Linked DNA regions of Homo sapiens: region 1 is linked to region 2. Evidence: fine-mapped expression QTL. Tissue or cell type: testis. Region 2 holds a variant in brackets; the other region holds the start of a gene. All regions are shown on one strand. Distances are from middle to middle.

Region 1 (8,003 bases), 21 kb after region 2:
CCAGGAGACCTGGCAACCTCCTGCCCTTTATCCTATTTAGGGAACACTTATGCAGTGCTGGTGTCAGGCGCCACTCTGTGTACATTGCAATTATTAGCCAATTACCCTACGAAGTGGGTGCTGTTCTTGTCCCTGTTTTACAAGGGAGGGGAGAGGGGACGCACAGAGAGGTTGAGTAACCTGCCTGAGATCACACAGCCAGGTCTGCAGCTCAGGGGCTGCTCCAGTGTCTGTGCTGAGCCTCCCTCCCCTCCTGCTGCTGCCTCCCCTCCTTCTCCGGGCTTCTGAACACCAGCAGGGCTGGACTTACTCTCCTGGACTCTGCTCTGCTCCCAGGACCTGGTCCAGGCTCCCGGCTCTAATCTTCACCACGTGGCCACCCTGCCTGCACGTCCATCCCCCAGACCTTGCCCTGAACTCCAGAGCTCACCTCGACCTACACGCCTCCACCCTCCCACCCCTCTTTTCACTGCTCACAGGGACAGCTTTGTTCCCTTTCTCCCTCTTTTTCTCGCCCTGTGGCACCCTCCCCGCTCTGTGCTTGCCCCTACCGTAGTTGGAGCCACCCCAACCTGTGGCAAGTTTGCCTTCCCACTCCCTCCCTGGTCTCTTGCTTCTGCCCTGGCTCCCAACAGTCATTTCCCAACACAGCAGCTCCAGACATTTTACCCTGACCAGCAAGGCTTCATGGGACCTGCCCCACCTTGCCCTCTGACCCCCTCCTGCCCCTTCCCTGCCAGGAACACTCCAGGTGAGGCACAGCCCCAGAGCCTCTATCCTGGCTGTGCTGTCTGCCTGATACAGCTATCCCCAGGCAACCCCAGGTTTCCTCCCTCTCCTCTTCTGGTTTTTGTTTGTTTTCTGTTTGTTTGGAGACAGTGTCTTGCTCTGTCGCCCAGGCTAGAGTGCAGTGGCGCAATCACAGCTCACTGCAGCCTCAACCGCTGGGCTCAGGCGATCCTAGATCTTCCCACCTCAGCCTCCCGAGTAACTGGGACTACAGGTGCGCCCACCACGCCCAGCTAATTTTTAAATTTTTTTGTAGAAATGGGGTCTTCCTGGCCGGGTGCGGTGGCTCACGCCTGTAATCTCAGCACTTCGGAAGGCCGAGGCAAGCAGATGATCTGAGGTCAGAAGTTCAAGACCAGCCTGGCTAACATGGTGAAACCCCATCTCTACCAAAAATACAAAAAAATTAGCCAGGTGTGGTGGCTCACGCCTGTAATCCCAGCTACTCGGGAGGCCAAGGCAGGAGAATCCTTTAAACCCAGGAGGCGGAGGCTGCAGTGAGCTGAGATTATGCCACTGTACTCCAGCCTGGGCAACAGAGCGAGACTCGGTCTCAAAAAACAACAACAACAACAAAAAAGAAATGGGGTCTTCCTATGTTGCCTAGGCTTGTCTCAAACTCCTGGCCTCAAGGTGAGAAAGAAAAGTTAGGTAGTTAGATAAGAAAGCCTGCACAGACCGGGCGGGGTGGCTCACACCTGTAATCCCAGCACTTTGGGAGGCCGAGGCGGGCGGATCATGAGGGCAGGAGATGGAGACCATCCTGGCTAACACGGTGAAACCCCGTCTCTACTAAAAATACAAAAAATTAGCCGGGCGTGGTGGCAGGTGCCTGTAGTCCCAGCTACTCGGGAGGCTGAGGCAGAAGAATGGCGTGAACCCGGGAGGTGGAGCTTGCAGTGAGCCGAGATCCTGCCACTGCACTCCAGCCTGGGGGACAGAGCGAGATTCCGTGTCAGGAAAAAAAAAAAAAGTAGCCCCTGACAGCCCCCCAAAAAGAATCTCAAATATCAGTGTAAAAAAGTCCGTGACTTACAACTAAAAATTACAAAACTACAACAAAGGGATCCTCCCCTCTCAGCTTCCCAAAGTGCTGGGATTACAGGTGTGAGCTATCGCGCCCAATGGGATTTTTTTTTTTTTTTCTCGATGGAGTCTTGCTCTGTCACCCAGGCTGGAGTGCAGTGGTGCGATCTCGGCTCACTGCAACCTCCGCCTCCCGGGTTCAAGTGATTCTCCTGCCTCAGCCTCCCGAGTAACTGGGAGTACAGGCACCCACCACCAAACCTGGCTAATTTTTGTATTTTTAGTAGAGACAGGGTTTCACCATGTTGGCCAAGCTGGTCTGGAACTCCTGATCTCATGCTCTGCCTGCCTCGGCCACCCAAAGTGCTGGGATTACAGTGATGAGCCACCACTGCTAATGGGATTTTTGCTTGAATCTATCCTCACTGTATTCCCTGACCTCCCCATGTGATACTGCAGTTCTCCCATTCTCCCCATGTCACTTAGCCTCCCTGCTCTTTCTTCTTCCGTAGCTTTGTCACTTTCTAACGTTGTTATTTATTTTATTTTATTTCATTTCATTTTATTTTTGAGACAGAGTCTTGCTCTGTTGTCCAGGCTGGAGTGCAGTGGCACGATCTTGGCTCACTGAAACCTCCACCTTACAGGTTCACGAGATTCTCCTGCCTTAGCCTCCTAAGTAGCTGAGACTACAGGCACCTGCCACCTGGCCCAGCTAATTTTTTGTATTTTTAGTAGAGACGGGGTTTCACCGTGTTAGCCAGGATGGTCTTGAACTCCTGATCTCATGCTCTGCCCGCCTCAGCCTCCCAAAGTGCTGGGATTATAGGCATGAGCCACCGCGCCCGGCCACGTTATTTATTATATTTTACTAAATCCTGTCTTTATCTGAATGCAAGGGATACTTGGCCTGTTTTATTCACCATCACTGTAGGTTGCTGAGTAAATGTTGAATTAACGAATGCATCACTGAATAAGTTACTGATAGCCTGCACACAGGAAGTGTTGGGCTGGGGTTCTCCGTGAACCTGGGGAAGTGAGGAGGTTTGCAAAGACAGGAAGAGTCTGGGGTGGGGAGATACCCAGGCTAGGCTGGGGAGATACCCAGGCTAGGCTGGTGGCGCTCAGGGGAGAGGACAGAGGTGAGGGGACTTAATAAGCACCTAGAGAGATGCCTAAGACTCTCAGTTAACCGTCTAAAGTAGGGACACTTTATTGCCATTGCACAGGTAGGGAAACTGAGGCCCAAGGGAATTAACCCTGACCTGGCCAGGAGCCAATGGAGGAAACCCTGTACAGTTTGATGCACAAATATTTATAGAGTTCCCACTAGGCTCCCAGACCATCCCTAGGAGCCGAGCTGCCCCTTGACCCCATCCAGGCCTCAGTTTCCCCGCTCACACTTCGCCCCCGCCTCGTGGGATTCTAAACTGTTGCTCCAAGGTGGGAGTTGAACGGAAACTACAACTCCCGAGAGGCTGTGCGGCCAAAGACACACGAGAACTACGGAGGCGAGAGACTCGCTCAGCCAACTGCCGCTCTCGTAAGGCTCGGGCTGCCCTTGGCGCTGCCGATCCGAGACGTTGCTGCATTCAGGCATTCGCCGACGACAGACCAGCGCGGGGCGGGGTTAGGCGGAGGGGGCCTGATTCGGATTCGGCGCAGGCGCAGTCCGCGCGGGTTCTCGCGCGGAGAAGGGGTGCGAGCGGCGGCGGCGGCGGAGGCTGCCATGGACGACGAGGAGGAGACGTACCGGCTCTGGAAAATCCGCAAGACCATCATGCAGGTGAGCCGCGCCTGGTGTTGGGGGCGGGGGCGCGGGCGGCGGGTGTAGGGGCCCGAGGTGGGGTCGAGCACGGCGTCTCCTCGTACTCTCGTCGGAGCAGCAGCGATGAAGGGCCGGGCCGATACGGGAGGCCCAGAGGTCGCCGGGGATACCAGGCGCTGGACCCGACCTGAGCCGGCAGCGGGGAAGGGAGGGGGTTTCGAGACGTCTGGGTGCGGTGCTTAGGGGTGGGTGGGCGGCTTGGGCTGGTGCGGCGCGCGTGGCGGCGAGAGGAGGAGGAAGCCGCGAATGGGGACGGGGGGCGCCCCCAGACTCTGCCCTTCTCTGTGATTCAGCGTCGCTATTTGTCCTTGCGTCCTGAACCCCATGGAGTCTTCAGCATCCGAGGCTGGCAGAGTTGGTGGTTGGGAAGCAGCGGGCGAGCTGGGGCTTTCGATGGGGACGTGGAGCTCGGAACCCGTGCCTTGGGGTCTGGGGCAGATGGAGGCCACTGGGTCGAGTCCGGTTTGGAAGCCGGGCACAGGCCTGAGGACCTGCGGTTCAGGGTATTGCCTCAGCCATTGGGGCCGTTTGAGAGCTTTTGCTTTGTCTTGCTTCCCACCCTTTGCCCTTGTCCTCAGCGAAGCCCCCCGCAGCCTGATTCTTCTTTCTCCGATCCTCAAACATTGTCAGCCTGAAGTCACATCTGTTTCGGTCCCTGTCATTTTTTTTTTTTAAGAGATAGGGTTTCATTCTGTCGCCCAGGCTGCAGTGCAGTGGTGCAATCATAGCTCACTGCATCCTTGAACTGGCCTCCAGCAACCCTCCTGCCTCAGCCTCCCTAAGTACTGGGATCACGGGCGTGAGCCTCCGCGCCCCGCCTTTGTCCCTGCCTTTAGGGTAGCTCTGCAAAGTGGTTTGGAGGGCTTTGCTCCCTGCCAGGTTTCTGTGAGGCTGGGTGGACAGACGGTCTTGGTCAAGGCTGGACATCTCTGGGAGCCTCTCAGGATCATACTGGTCCCATCCTGTGGTGTGAGGCTGTGGGGGCCGGGGTGGCTGTCATGGAGCACACAGTGAGTGTTCATCCCGTTTGCTGTTCACCTCTGTCCTCTGCAGCAGCCGCAGGTCTGACTTCCGGGTCACGAGCTTTGGCCGCCTTCCTCTCTCTGCCCTGGGGTCAGCTGGTTCTTTCTCTCTGCAGCTGTGCCACGACCGTGGCTATCTGGTGACCCAGGACGAGCTTGACCAGACCCTGGAGGAGTTCAAAGCCCAATCTGGGGACAAGCCGAGTGAGGGGCGGCCGCGGCGCACGGACCTCACCGTGCTGGTGGCCCACAACGATGACCCCACCGACCAGATGTTTGTGTTCTTTCCAGGTGAGCAGCGGGTCCCGGGGGAGTTCCGGTGAAGCCACCAGAGCACCTGCCGAGGAGCCGGTCGCTAGCACCCACCCCCACTCGCCTGGTGCCCAGCATTTGTCTCTCTGCCCAGTCTGGGAGGAAAACTCCCCTCCCCTTCCTTGCTGTGGGTGATGCCGTTGATCTCTGACCCCTCTCATGCTCAGCTTCTTTCTAGTTTCCCTCTCAGTCCCCTTCTCTCTTCCTGCCAACGAGGAGAGTCACAAGGGCCTCCCCACTCACCCCCAGCCCCCCATGTCCTTTGCCCTAGTGTCCCTTGGCTCCCCCATCCTGGCCGTTGGGTGCACTTCCAGCTTCTTGGCCTGGCCCAGGAGGCCCCGTCTGGGTCAGCGCAGCCTCCTTGTGAGCTGCGGCCCCTGCCCGCCCCAGCCCATTCCTCCGCACCCCATGCCCCCTCTCCCCTGTCAGCGTCCGGTACTCGTCCCTCGAGCTTGTGCTCGGGCCTCTTTTCCCAGGACCCCTGGGACCCTCGGTTTCAGCACCTGCTTTGCGGAAGTCTCCGCACCTGTCTGCCTCCCTAGTATGGCTCTAAAGCCCTCAGCGGTTGGGGGATTGCAAGCGCCTTAGGGGCGCAGCCCCACGCCCAGAATTAATCAGTGGGGTGACGGAGCACGTCTGCCAACCGGACCTGGTGACGCTGCTGGGTTTTTTTGTTTTTTTTTTGTTTTTGTTTTTTGAAAAAGAGTCTCAATCTGTCGCCCAGGCTGGAGTGCAGTGGTGCCATCTCGGCTTGCTGCAGCCTCCACCTCCTGAGTTCAAGCGATTCTCCTGCCTCAGCTTGAGTAGCTGAGATTACAGGCACCCACCACCACGCCTGGCTAGTTTTTCTTTGCATTTTAGTAGAGATGAGGTTTCACCATGTTGGCTAGACTGCTTTCAAACTCCTAATCTCAGGTGATCCGCCCGCCTCGGCCTCCCAAAGTGCTGGGATTACAGGCGTGAGCCACCGCGCCCAGTCTTTTTTTTTTTTTTTTTTTTTGAGACTGAGTCTCCCTCTGTCACCCAGGCTGGAGTGTGCAGTGGCGCAATCTCAGCTCACTGCAACCTCCACCTCCCAGGTTCAAACAATCCTTCCACCTCAGCCTCCCAAAAAGCTAGGTTTACAGGCATACACCATCTCACCTGGCTACTTTTTCTTTTTGTATTGTTTATTAATTAATTAATTAATTTTTTTGAGACAGAGTCTTGCTCTGTTGCCCAGGCTGGAGTGCAGTGGCGCAATCTCTGCCCACTGCAAGCTCTGCCTCCCGGGTTCACGCCATTCTCCTGCCTCAGCCTCCCGAGTAGCTGGGACTGCGGGCGTGGGCTAATTTTTTGTATTTTTAGTAGAAACGGGATTTCACCTTGTTAGCCAGGGTGGTCTCGATCTCCTGACATCGTGATCTGCCCACCTTGACCTCCCAAAGTGCTGGGATTACAGGTGCGAGCCACCGCGCCCATCCTGTATTGTTAATAGAGACCGGGTTTCACCATGTTGGCCAGGCCGGTTTAGAACTGTTGACTTCAAGTGATCCACCTGCCTCAGCCTCCCAAAGTGCTAGGATTACAGGTGTGAGCCACCGCACCCGGCCTCAGGTGATGCTTCTTAAAGAGAGCGTCCTGGGGTGTGAGGTCTGCTTGTTGGAGAGGTTGGTGCTGAGTCACCCGCCTCCCCAGAACTGCCCAGGGTGGGAGCCTCTCAGAGTCGAAGGTCTCTGCTTCTCCCTGGTCTCTGGGTGACTGAGGGGTGTCAGCCCCCTGTCCCTGTCTCCGGGTGAATGAGAGGTTTCAGCCCTCTCTTCCCCTGTCCTGGGATCCTGCAACTCAGGCCTCGTTTTGCAAACGCGGAAGCCGAGGCCCGAGCAGGAGAGACACCTGTGTGGAATGGGGCTGGAACCTGGGTGCTCTGGGCTCTGGGTGGGCGAGGGCCACGAGGGCCCAGGCTCGTGCAGGCCAGCACACTCTCTGTCTGCAGAGGAGCCCAAGGTGGGCATCAAGACCATCAAGGTGTACTGCCAGCGCATGCAGGAGGAGAACATCACACGGGCTCTCATCGTGGTGCAGCAGGGCATGACACCCTCCGCCAAGCAGGTGGGCACCCCTGCCCCACCCCGCCAGCCTCTCCCCCTCCCCAGCCTCCTCCCGCAAGCAGTACCCACAGGCGGCCCACGTGCCTTGGGCTTTGGGCCAGGCCAGCCAGGGTGCCCTGGAGGATGTGGCCGGGATGTCCGGCAAGCCCCGACCGCCTCCCTCCCACCGCGTCCATGGGCCCCACCCCAGGCAGCCGCCGTCCTCCCCCAGCTCTCAGGAGGGGCGTCAGGGCGGAGGGCACTGTGCCTCTCGCCAGCTCCTGTGGGCTCCAGCCCTCGGCCTGGTGCAGATTCCAGGAGCCGGAGGTTCTTTATCCTGAGCTGATGTCCAGGGGGACTTGCAGAGGAGGCCCGGCACGGGGTCCTCCAGGGGCCTATCCGTGTTCCCCGTCTGTCTGTCGGACACTCTGGAGCCAGGCTGCTGTGCTGTGACGGGCAGTCAGCAGAGCAGTTTAGTCCCTGGCCCACCAGCTGTGGGGTTCACGCAGCCACACAGAGCAGCACCCCTGTATGGGGAAGAGGTCGCCCTGCCAGCTCTGAGGGCCGCCCCTGGAAGCGTGTGATGGATGGAAACACATCCGAGTTTCCACGGCCACTTCACTGCTGGATGAGGCTCTCGATGAGCAGAGAGGCTGGGGAGGGGCGGGCTGTTGAAGGCTCCTGGGCTGGCGGTGGGGTTTTCTGATTCACGACGTGGGTGTGTTGTTGGGGCACACGAGTAAGCCCCAGGTAGCTTGAGGCAGGAAATGGGGTTGGGGTTGTCTGGGCCCCTCCGGGCCGTGCCTTAGAGCCGCTCTCTTCCAGTCCCTGGTCGACATGGCCCCCAAGTACATCCTGGAGCAGTTTCTGCAGCAGGAGCTGCTCATCAACATCACGGAGCACGAGGTGGGCGCGCGCCGCGGAATCCCGCCTGCGTGGGGCCGGCAGAGATGCAGC
Region 2 (8,003 bases):
GGTCTTGGGTGGTCAGGACCTGGGCTCCTGGGGTCGCCCCCGTCCTTCAGAATACTCCTTAACCCACGTGTGCCTCAGATCGTGTTCGACGAGTGTCACAAAGCCAAGAATGCCGGCTCCACCAAGATGGGCAAGGCTGTGCTAGACCTGCAGAACAAGCTGCCCCTGGCCCGCGTGGTCTACGCCAGCGCCACAGGTGGGGCGGTGCGGATCCCACGTGACCCACCCGCAGCAGCGTCTTTCTGCCTGGCTGTCCCCGCGAAGGGGTATCCCACACGCGTACTCAGCCTCCGTCTGCACCCTGCTCCTCCTCGGACACTGGGGCACCTCTGCGCCTGTCCCAAGGCCACGCTGGCTCTCTTCAGGCCCATGGCTCCAACCCCGCAGGGCCCCTCGTCGGGTGGTCCCAACTTAGTCGTCCCCTGACGCGGCCTCTGGGCCCTCCCGGGTTGGGGAGCTGACGGCAGCTTCCCCCCACAGGTGCCTCTGAGCCTCGGAACATGATCTACATGAGCCGCTTGGGTATCTGGGGCGAGGGCACACCCTTCCGGAACTTTGAGGAGTTCCTGCACGCCATCGAGAAGAGGTGAGTGCCCTTCTCACCCACGTGGAGGGGCGGCGGGGGGTGGGGAGGAGGCCTCAGGCCCATCAGCCCAAGGCCTGGCACTGCCACGTGTGCTTCCCCAGCACCCAGAGGTGCTGAATGTGGGTCGCTCGTTTCACTGCCTCGGGCTGCCCAGCACTCCCAGGGAAGCCAGCCCCTCCGCAGCCCTTCCTGCCCCGTCCCCGCCAGGCTCAGCTGCCAACTGCCTCAGTGGCCGCCAGGGCTCTGCTCCTGCCGACCCCGCCCTCTCTGCGACTGGCTCTGCCTCGCGCTCCGAGTGGCTCCATCCCCACGGGCTCTGGCCGTGCTCACGGGGGCTGTGTCCATCCGCAGGGGCGTTGGCGCCATGGAGATCGTGGCCATGGACATGAAGGTCAGCGGCATGTACATCGCACGCCAGCTCAGCTTCTCCGGCGTCACCTTCCGCATCGAGGAGATCCCGCTGGCCCCAGCCTTCGAGTGCGTCTACAACCGCGCGGCCCTGCTGGTGAGCCTGCGCACCCGACCCGGGGACCCCTGTGCGTTTCCCGGGTGAAATTGCTCCCCCGTGGCCTTGCAGATGCCACAGGCGTCATCAGGTGACGGCCCGCCCTGTCCTGTCCTGGGGTTTTTTTTTTGTTGTTTTTTTGAGACAGTCTCGTGCTGTCATCTAGGCTGGAGTGCTGTGGTGTGATCTCAGTTCACTGCAACCTCTGCCTCTTGGGTTTAAGCGATTCTCCCCCCTCAGCCTCTCGAGTAGCTGGAGTTACAGGTGCCCGCCTCCACACCCAGCTAATTTTGTGTATTTTTTGGTAGAGAACGGTGTTTCTCCATGTTGGCCAGGTTGGTTTCAAACTCCTGACCGCAAGTGATCTGCCCGCCTCGGCCTCCCACAGTGCTGGGATGACAGGCGTGAGCCACGTGCCCGGCCATCACTGGGGTTTTTATGTGGCTGTGATAACGAGGGATGGGACCAAACCACCGCCCCCCTTCCTGTGGTGCCCAAGCCCTTTGCCCCCAGGTCCTGGCCCACAGCTGGCAGTTGGTAGCCGTGTTCAGCATCCACATTGCTGTGGGCCATGTGGCTTGGTCGTTCCCTCCATGTTTGGACAGGTCCTGTTTTCTCCCCCTCACGCCCAACAGCCCTGTATGTTCGATGGTTTTTTTTTTTTATTTTTTGAGACGGGGTTTCCACTCTTGTTGCCCAGGCTGGAGTGCAATGGCACGATCTTGGCTCACCGCAACCTCCGCCTACCAGATTCAAGCAATTCTCCTGCCTCAGCCTCCCGCGTAGCTGGGGTTACAGGCATGTGCCACCAGCCCGGCCAATTTTATATTTTTGGTAGAGACAGGATTTCTCCATGTTGGTCAGGCTGGTTGGTCTCAAACTCCTGAGCTCAGGCGATCTGACCGCCTCAGCCTCCCAAAGTGCTGTGATTACAGGCGTGAGCCACCACACCCAGCCTCTTCACTCGTTTCTTTAGGTGACACAACCAGCATCTCCCGTAACCCCCAGGGCCGGGTTGCTCTCCGGGGTGGGGCCGTCCTGAGCACTTTGGGGTATGGAGCAGCATCCGTGGCCAGAGTCCCAGCCACCCTAACCCAGCCCACCCAGTCATGCCGGGACCAGCCCCCAAACCTGACCACCACAGCCAGCCCCAGACATGCCCAGTGTCCCCTGGACAGGATCACACCTGGGTGAGACCCTGGTCCAAAGCAAGAGAGGCGTGGCTGCGAGCACCCTGTGTTCTTGGAAGGAGCTGAGCCTGTTTGCCGCGGGCGCGGAGTCTGTGCAGTTTGCAGCACGGCTTCCCCACCACGAGTGTTTTGGTTTTTCAGGTTTTTGCCGTACAGGTAGAGGCAGTGCCTCTTACAGTGCACACCCCCAGCACCCCCATCCTGCCCTAAATTCCACCTGGCGTGGGGATGCCTTGCCCAGGGCTGGCGGCAGGTGGGCCGGGGCCCGGGTCGGGAGCCAGGAGCCACAGCTCAGGGGCGCCTTGTGACGTGTCATTGCAGTGGGCCGAGGCCCTGAACGTGTTCCAGCAGGCGGCCGACTGGATCGGCCTGGAGTCGCGCAAGTCCCTGTGGGGCCAGTTCTGGTCGGCACACCAGCGCTTCTTCAAGTATCTGTGCATCGCAGCCAAGGTGCGCCGGCTGGTGGAGCTGGCCCGAGAGGAGCTGGCGCGAGACAAGGTGAGCGGCTGCGGCCTTCGAGGGCTGAGGGCGGCCGGGCCTGCAGGGGCGGAGGCTGCTCTTCTTCCAGGTCCTTCCTGGCCCCTCCCCAGACGTGGGCGGGGGCTGCACCCTGGTGGGTGAGAGACGCCCGGATGTCCGTCTTCCAATCAGAGCCAGCCAGGGTGTCAGAACAGCGGAGTGTGACCACACAGTGGGCAGCTCACCATCCCGAGACAGGCAGCCGGCAGACCCCCACCCAGCAGTGTGTGTTGTAGGGGGGCCGTGGCCCCTCCTGGGGAGGCGAGCACAGCAGCAGAGTGAGGGATGTGGCCATCACCCCAGGCCTGGCAGGTTCTGGCCCCACAGAGGCCCCACAGCAGGGCTGGTGGCTCACAGTCCTCTGCCGTCCCACAGTGCGTGGTCATCGGGCTGCAGTCCACGGGCGAGGCGCGCACGCGGGAGGTGCTGGGGGAGAACGATGGGCACCTCAACTGCTTCGTCTCGGCCGCTGAGTAAGTGTCACGGTGGGGACAGGACTGTGGGCTTCCTGCGCTCATGGCCACCCCTCTCTGTGGCCACCTGTGGCCTGACCCTGCCCCTTGGCCCCAGCAGCAGGAGGTGCTGGGGTGGGCTTTGCTGGGCCCCCAGCCTCAGCCACAGAGGCCTTCACCGCTGCTCCAGGTCTAAAGCAGAGGCTTGGAGGTGGACCCCAGGCATGGTGGGCCTGGAAGGTTTGGGACATGGTCTCCAGGGGTCTCAGAAGGAGGCTTCCTGCATCTGTGCCGTTTTAACAAGGGGGCTGTGGATTTTAGGGGCTGGCCCTCCCAGCTGTCTGAAGCCCCAGCCTCTCCCCTGTTGGTTGAGAATGCCCCGGGAGGGTCACAGCAGCCCCCCTAGATCCCCCCATTGCCTGGGGGTCGGAGCTCCCCAATGCCCCCAGCTACCCCTTCACCCTGCCCCCTGCCCCTGTCCTGGGAGCCATCATCATATCCGGCCACATT[C/T]CTCAGAGCGGGGGAAGCCTGGTGGCCGAGGTGGCCCTGTGACACCAGGAGGCCAGAGGAGAGCTCACAGGCAGCCCCCAGTCCTCCCCAGCCCACTCCACACAGGAGACCCTCTGCCCAGGCCCGGTCCTGTCCGGGACCCCCACAGGGACCCAGGGGTGCGTCCAGCTCCTGGAGAGCAACCCCGCCTGGCCTCAGCTCCTCGTGTGAGAATAAACTCCGCGTCTCACTTTCAGAGGCGTGTTCCTGTCGCTAATTCAGAAGCACTTTCCGTCCACCAAGAGAAAGCGGGACAGAGGAGCGGGCAGCAAGCGGAAACGTAAGCCCTGCCCCCCATGGCCCCACCCACCCCTGCCCCTCTGCTTTCTCCCCCCGGGGGCTGGCTGGTCGCTCCCTGCTTCCCCCACTCCCCCGTCCACTCAGCCAAATGCAGGTCCTGTCCGTGCCAGGCAGGCTCAAGGCTCCGCTGCCAGTGGCAGGTCTTGCGTGGACCCTGCCATGGAACGCTTAGGGAAGAGGAAGCAACAGACAGCCTGAAGGACACAGACGTGGGTGCCGAGCGAGACCCGGGGGGCGGGACACGGACGCGGGTGCTGAGCGAGACCCCTCCCACCTTCCGTTTTCAGGGTCTCCACGGTCCCTTGGGGAGCCCATTGATAACCCCCAGGCTTCTGTCACAGGGAAGCCCAGAGCTGCCTGTCGAAGTCTGGTGTGTGGCCTCCCCAGGCACCCCGCGTGTCCACCATACTGGCCAGGCCTGAAAGGACGTTGGATATGGGTTTATTAATATTGTCCCGTTGGCTGGGCGTGGTGGCTCACGCCTGTAATCCCAGCACTTTGGGAGGCCGAGGCGGGTGGATCACCTGAGGTCAGGAGTTTAAGACCAGCCTGGCCAACATGGTGAGACCCTGTCTCTACTAAAAATACAAAAATTAGCTGGGCGTGGTGGTGGACGCCTATAATCCCAGCTACTTGGGAGGCTGAGGCAGGGGAATCGCTTGAACCTGAGAGGTGGAGATTGCAGTGAGCCGAGATCATGCCACTGCACTCCAACTTGGGTGACAGAAAAAACTCTTGTCTCAAAAAAATTAATAAAAATAAAATATTGGCTAGGTGCAGTGGGTCACGCCTGTTGTAATCCCAGCACTTTGGAAGGCTGAGGCGGGCAAATCACCTGAGGCCAGGAGTTTGAGACCAGCCTGGCCAACATGGTGAAACTCCATCTCTACTAAAAATAGAAAAATTAGCCAGGTGTGGTGGTGCATGCTTGTAATACCAGCTGCTCAGGAGGCTGAGGCAGGGGAATTGCTTGAACCCGGGAGGTGGAGGTTGCAGTGAGCTGAGATCGCACCACTGCACTCCAGCCTGGGCAACAGAGTGAAACTCCATCTCAAAAATAAATAAATAAGCCAGGCGTGGTGGTTCACGCCTATAATCCCAGCACTTTGGGAGGCTGAGGCAGGTGGATCACGAGGTCAGGAGATCGACACCATCCTGGCCAACATGGTGAAACCCCATCTCTACTAAAATACAAAAGATTAGCCAGGCGTGGTGGTGGGCGCCTGTAATCCCACCTACTCAGGAGGCTGAGGCAGGAGAATCGCTTGAATCCAGGAGGCAGAGAGTGCAGTGAGATGCCACCGTTCTCCAGCCTGGCGACAGAGTAAGACTCCGTCTCAAAAGAAAATAAATAAATAAAATATGGCCCCCCACACCGTACCCTCCTGGCCACAGGGCACGGGGTTCCCTAGAGGGCGTCCCTGGAGAACAGCTGAGCTGCTTGCCCAGAGGCAGGGGGTTCTCGGATGGACCTCCCCAGCTCGGACCACTGGCCTTGCTCTGTCCTGCTGCGTCTCCTCCACCTGCTCCTCCACCTTGCTGCGGTCTGGCCCTCGGTGACCCTGTCCTTCCCTGCAGGGCGACCTCGGGGACGCGGGGCCAAAGCCCCCCGGCTGGCGTGCGAGACAGCGGGCGTCATCCGCATCAGTGACGACAGCAGCACGGAGTCGGACCCTGGCCTGGACAGCGACTTCAACTCCTCCCCCGAGTCCCTGGTGGATGACGACGTTGTCATCGTTGATGCAGTCGGGCTCCCCAGTGACGACCGGGGTGAGGGCTTGCCCAGGCTGGCCAGCCACCTGTGGGTCAGGATTCCAGTCCAGGCTGAGCAGCCACCTCTGGGTCAGGATTCCAGCCTGAGGCTCCCCCGGCCTCCTGGCGGTCACCACCCACCCCAGGTTGTAGCCCTCAGTCCAGCCCACCTGAGCCCAGCTGCTGCTATGGTGCCCACTTTACAGATGGGGGAAACTGAGGCCCAGAGAGGGGAGGTCAGGGGTTATACCACTGGTCAGAGGCAGAGCTGGGGCTTGGGGCTGGGCAGTCCCTACCCCTGTGGAGGCAGTGAGGTCACAGTGTTTGGTCCGCGACAGGAGGCTTAGTCTCGCCCCAGCTGGTCTCAGGGAGACAAGTGCAGAAAAGCAGTCCTGGGCCACGGTGCCGGGCTTCCCCGCCACCCTGCCGTCCCTCAGGGTTGCCCCGGGCCCCTTGTCCTTGCCCTCCAGGGGCCAGCCTTGAGTTAGGTGGGCCCTAGAAGGCAGCCAACATGTCCTGCCCTGACCCTCCACCTCCTCCCTAGGACCCCTGTGCCTCCTGCAGAGAGACCCGCATGGCCCCGGGGTCCTGGAGCGGGTGGAGCGGCTGAAGCAGGATCTGCTGGACAAAGTGCGGCGGCTGGGCCGGGAACTGCCAGTCAACACCCTGGACGAGCTCATCGACCAGCTGGGCGGCCCCCAGCGGGTGGCGGAGGTGGGTGGGACGTGGCAGCTGGAGTGTGGTGGGCGGGGCATGGGCAGTGGGTGGGGCTTCACGCAGGCTGTGTGCAGCTCTGGTGGCCCCTGCTGGTCACTCTGCGTCTCCGCGGCCCTGCGAGGAGGGGGCGTTTGGGGAGCCCTGGGGCAGCAGCGTGCTGTCCAGCTCGGCCCGGGAGGCCACGACCTCCTGTGGACGGCCTGCCCCATCCCTCTAAGCCCCAGATCCCCCAGCCTGGCCTGCGCAGGCCTCTGCTTAGATCGTTGCCTGAACGCACCCCTTGGGGTGCCCAGGGCCAGGACACAAGCCCCTGGGCCTGGTTCTGCGGCCTCCTACTCCCTGCCCCCGCCCAGCTTCACTTTTTCACTTCGTGGCGCCGGCTGGCTGATAATACCAGGCCTTGGACAGGCACACATCGCCTGGGTCCAGCAGTCCCGCCCTCCCTTTCCCAGCACCCCCACCTCCCGTGCACAGCTGGGAGCCCATGACCACTGTAGGACATAGGGAAGCTGAGACACGGGTGGCCAGACTCCTGCGAGGCCACAACACTGACGGCCGGTTTTGTCCCTGTCTCGGCTGCAGATGACCGGCAGGAAAGGCCGCGTGGTGTCCAGGCCCGACGGGACGGTGGCCTTCGAGTCGCGGGCAGAGCAGGGTCTGTCCATCGACCACGTGAACCTCAGGGAGAAGCAGCGCTTCATGAGCGGCGAGAAGGTGCGGGGCTGCAGTGCACTGGGCGCGGCCCACGGGACCCAAGAGGCACAGAGGGGCCCAAGGGTCCCCGGGGACTGTGGACCCGCGCACTTCTGGAGTGTGTGTGTGCCAGGTGCGGGCGCGAGTGGCCGTGTGGCGGGTGGTGTCCGCGCCCCGCAGGCCTCTCGCTGCCCCGGGACGTCCTGGTGACCTGGAGCGGGGGCCTAGTGGGTGAGGAGGTGGCGGCAACGCTGGGGCGGGCCTTGCACCAACCGTGTCCCGGCCCCTTCTTTCCCCCTAGCTCGTGGCCATCATCTCGGAGGCCTCCAGCTCGGGTGTCTCCCTCCAAGCCGACCGCCGTGTCCAGAACCAGCGGCGCCGCGTGCACATGACCTTGGAGCTGCCGTGGAGCGCCGACCGCGCCATCCAGCAGTTCGGTGAGTCCGGCCCCGCCCCCAGCGCTGCCTGGCCCCGCCCCCAACATGGTCTCGGCCCCGCCCCCGCCTGGCCGGGCCCTGAGAGCAGCTCTGCCCCCAGGCCGCACCCACCGGTCCAACCAGGTCTCCGCGCCAGAGTATGTCTTCCTCATCTCGGAGCTGGCCGGGGAGCGCCGGTTCGCCTCCATCGTGGCCAAGCGCCTGGAGAGTCTGGTGAGCAGGTGGGGGTGGGGCTGAGAACCAGGGACAGGCCCAGGAAGGCTCTCCAAAGCTTTGTGGGGTGCTAGAGGCCAGACCCCAGGT

Evidence for each region. PIP is the estimated chance that this variant, and not a neighbour inherited with it, causes the effect.
Region 1: POLR2E starts here. The variant in region 2 is fine-mapped to the expression of POLR2E in testis (GTEx, PIP 0.99).

The regions. Positions count from the first base shown.
Region 1 is chr19:1,090,857-1,098,859 of GRCh38, reverse strand. POLR2E (RNA polymerase II, I and III subunit E) reads left to right here and starts at 3,485. Exons shown (of 8, transcript NM_002695.5): 1 at 3,485-3,601; 2 at 4,782-4,956; 3 at 6,953-7,068; 4 at 7,872-7,952. The coding sequence starts at 3,545. RefSeq lists enhancers at 3,452-3,541, 4,299-4,834.
Region 2 is chr19:1,112,099-1,120,101 of GRCh38, reverse strand. SBNO2 (strawberry notch homolog 2) reads left to right here. Exons shown (of 32, transcript NM_014963.3): 12 at 79-196; 13 at 481-586; 14 at 938-1,091; 15 at 2,603-2,779; 16 at 3,176-3,273; 17 at 3,999-4,081; 18 at 5,680-5,871; 19 at 6,398-6,567; 20 at 7,153-7,284; 21 at 7,565-7,700; 22 at 7,801-7,913. Among named protein-coding and RNA genes, the nearest start is that of GPX4, 12 kb to the right of the region's middle. RefSeq lists enhancers at 2,168-2,680, 2,681-3,194, 6,503-7,422, 7,423-8,003. The variant C/T (reference allele first, on the strand shown) is at 3,763.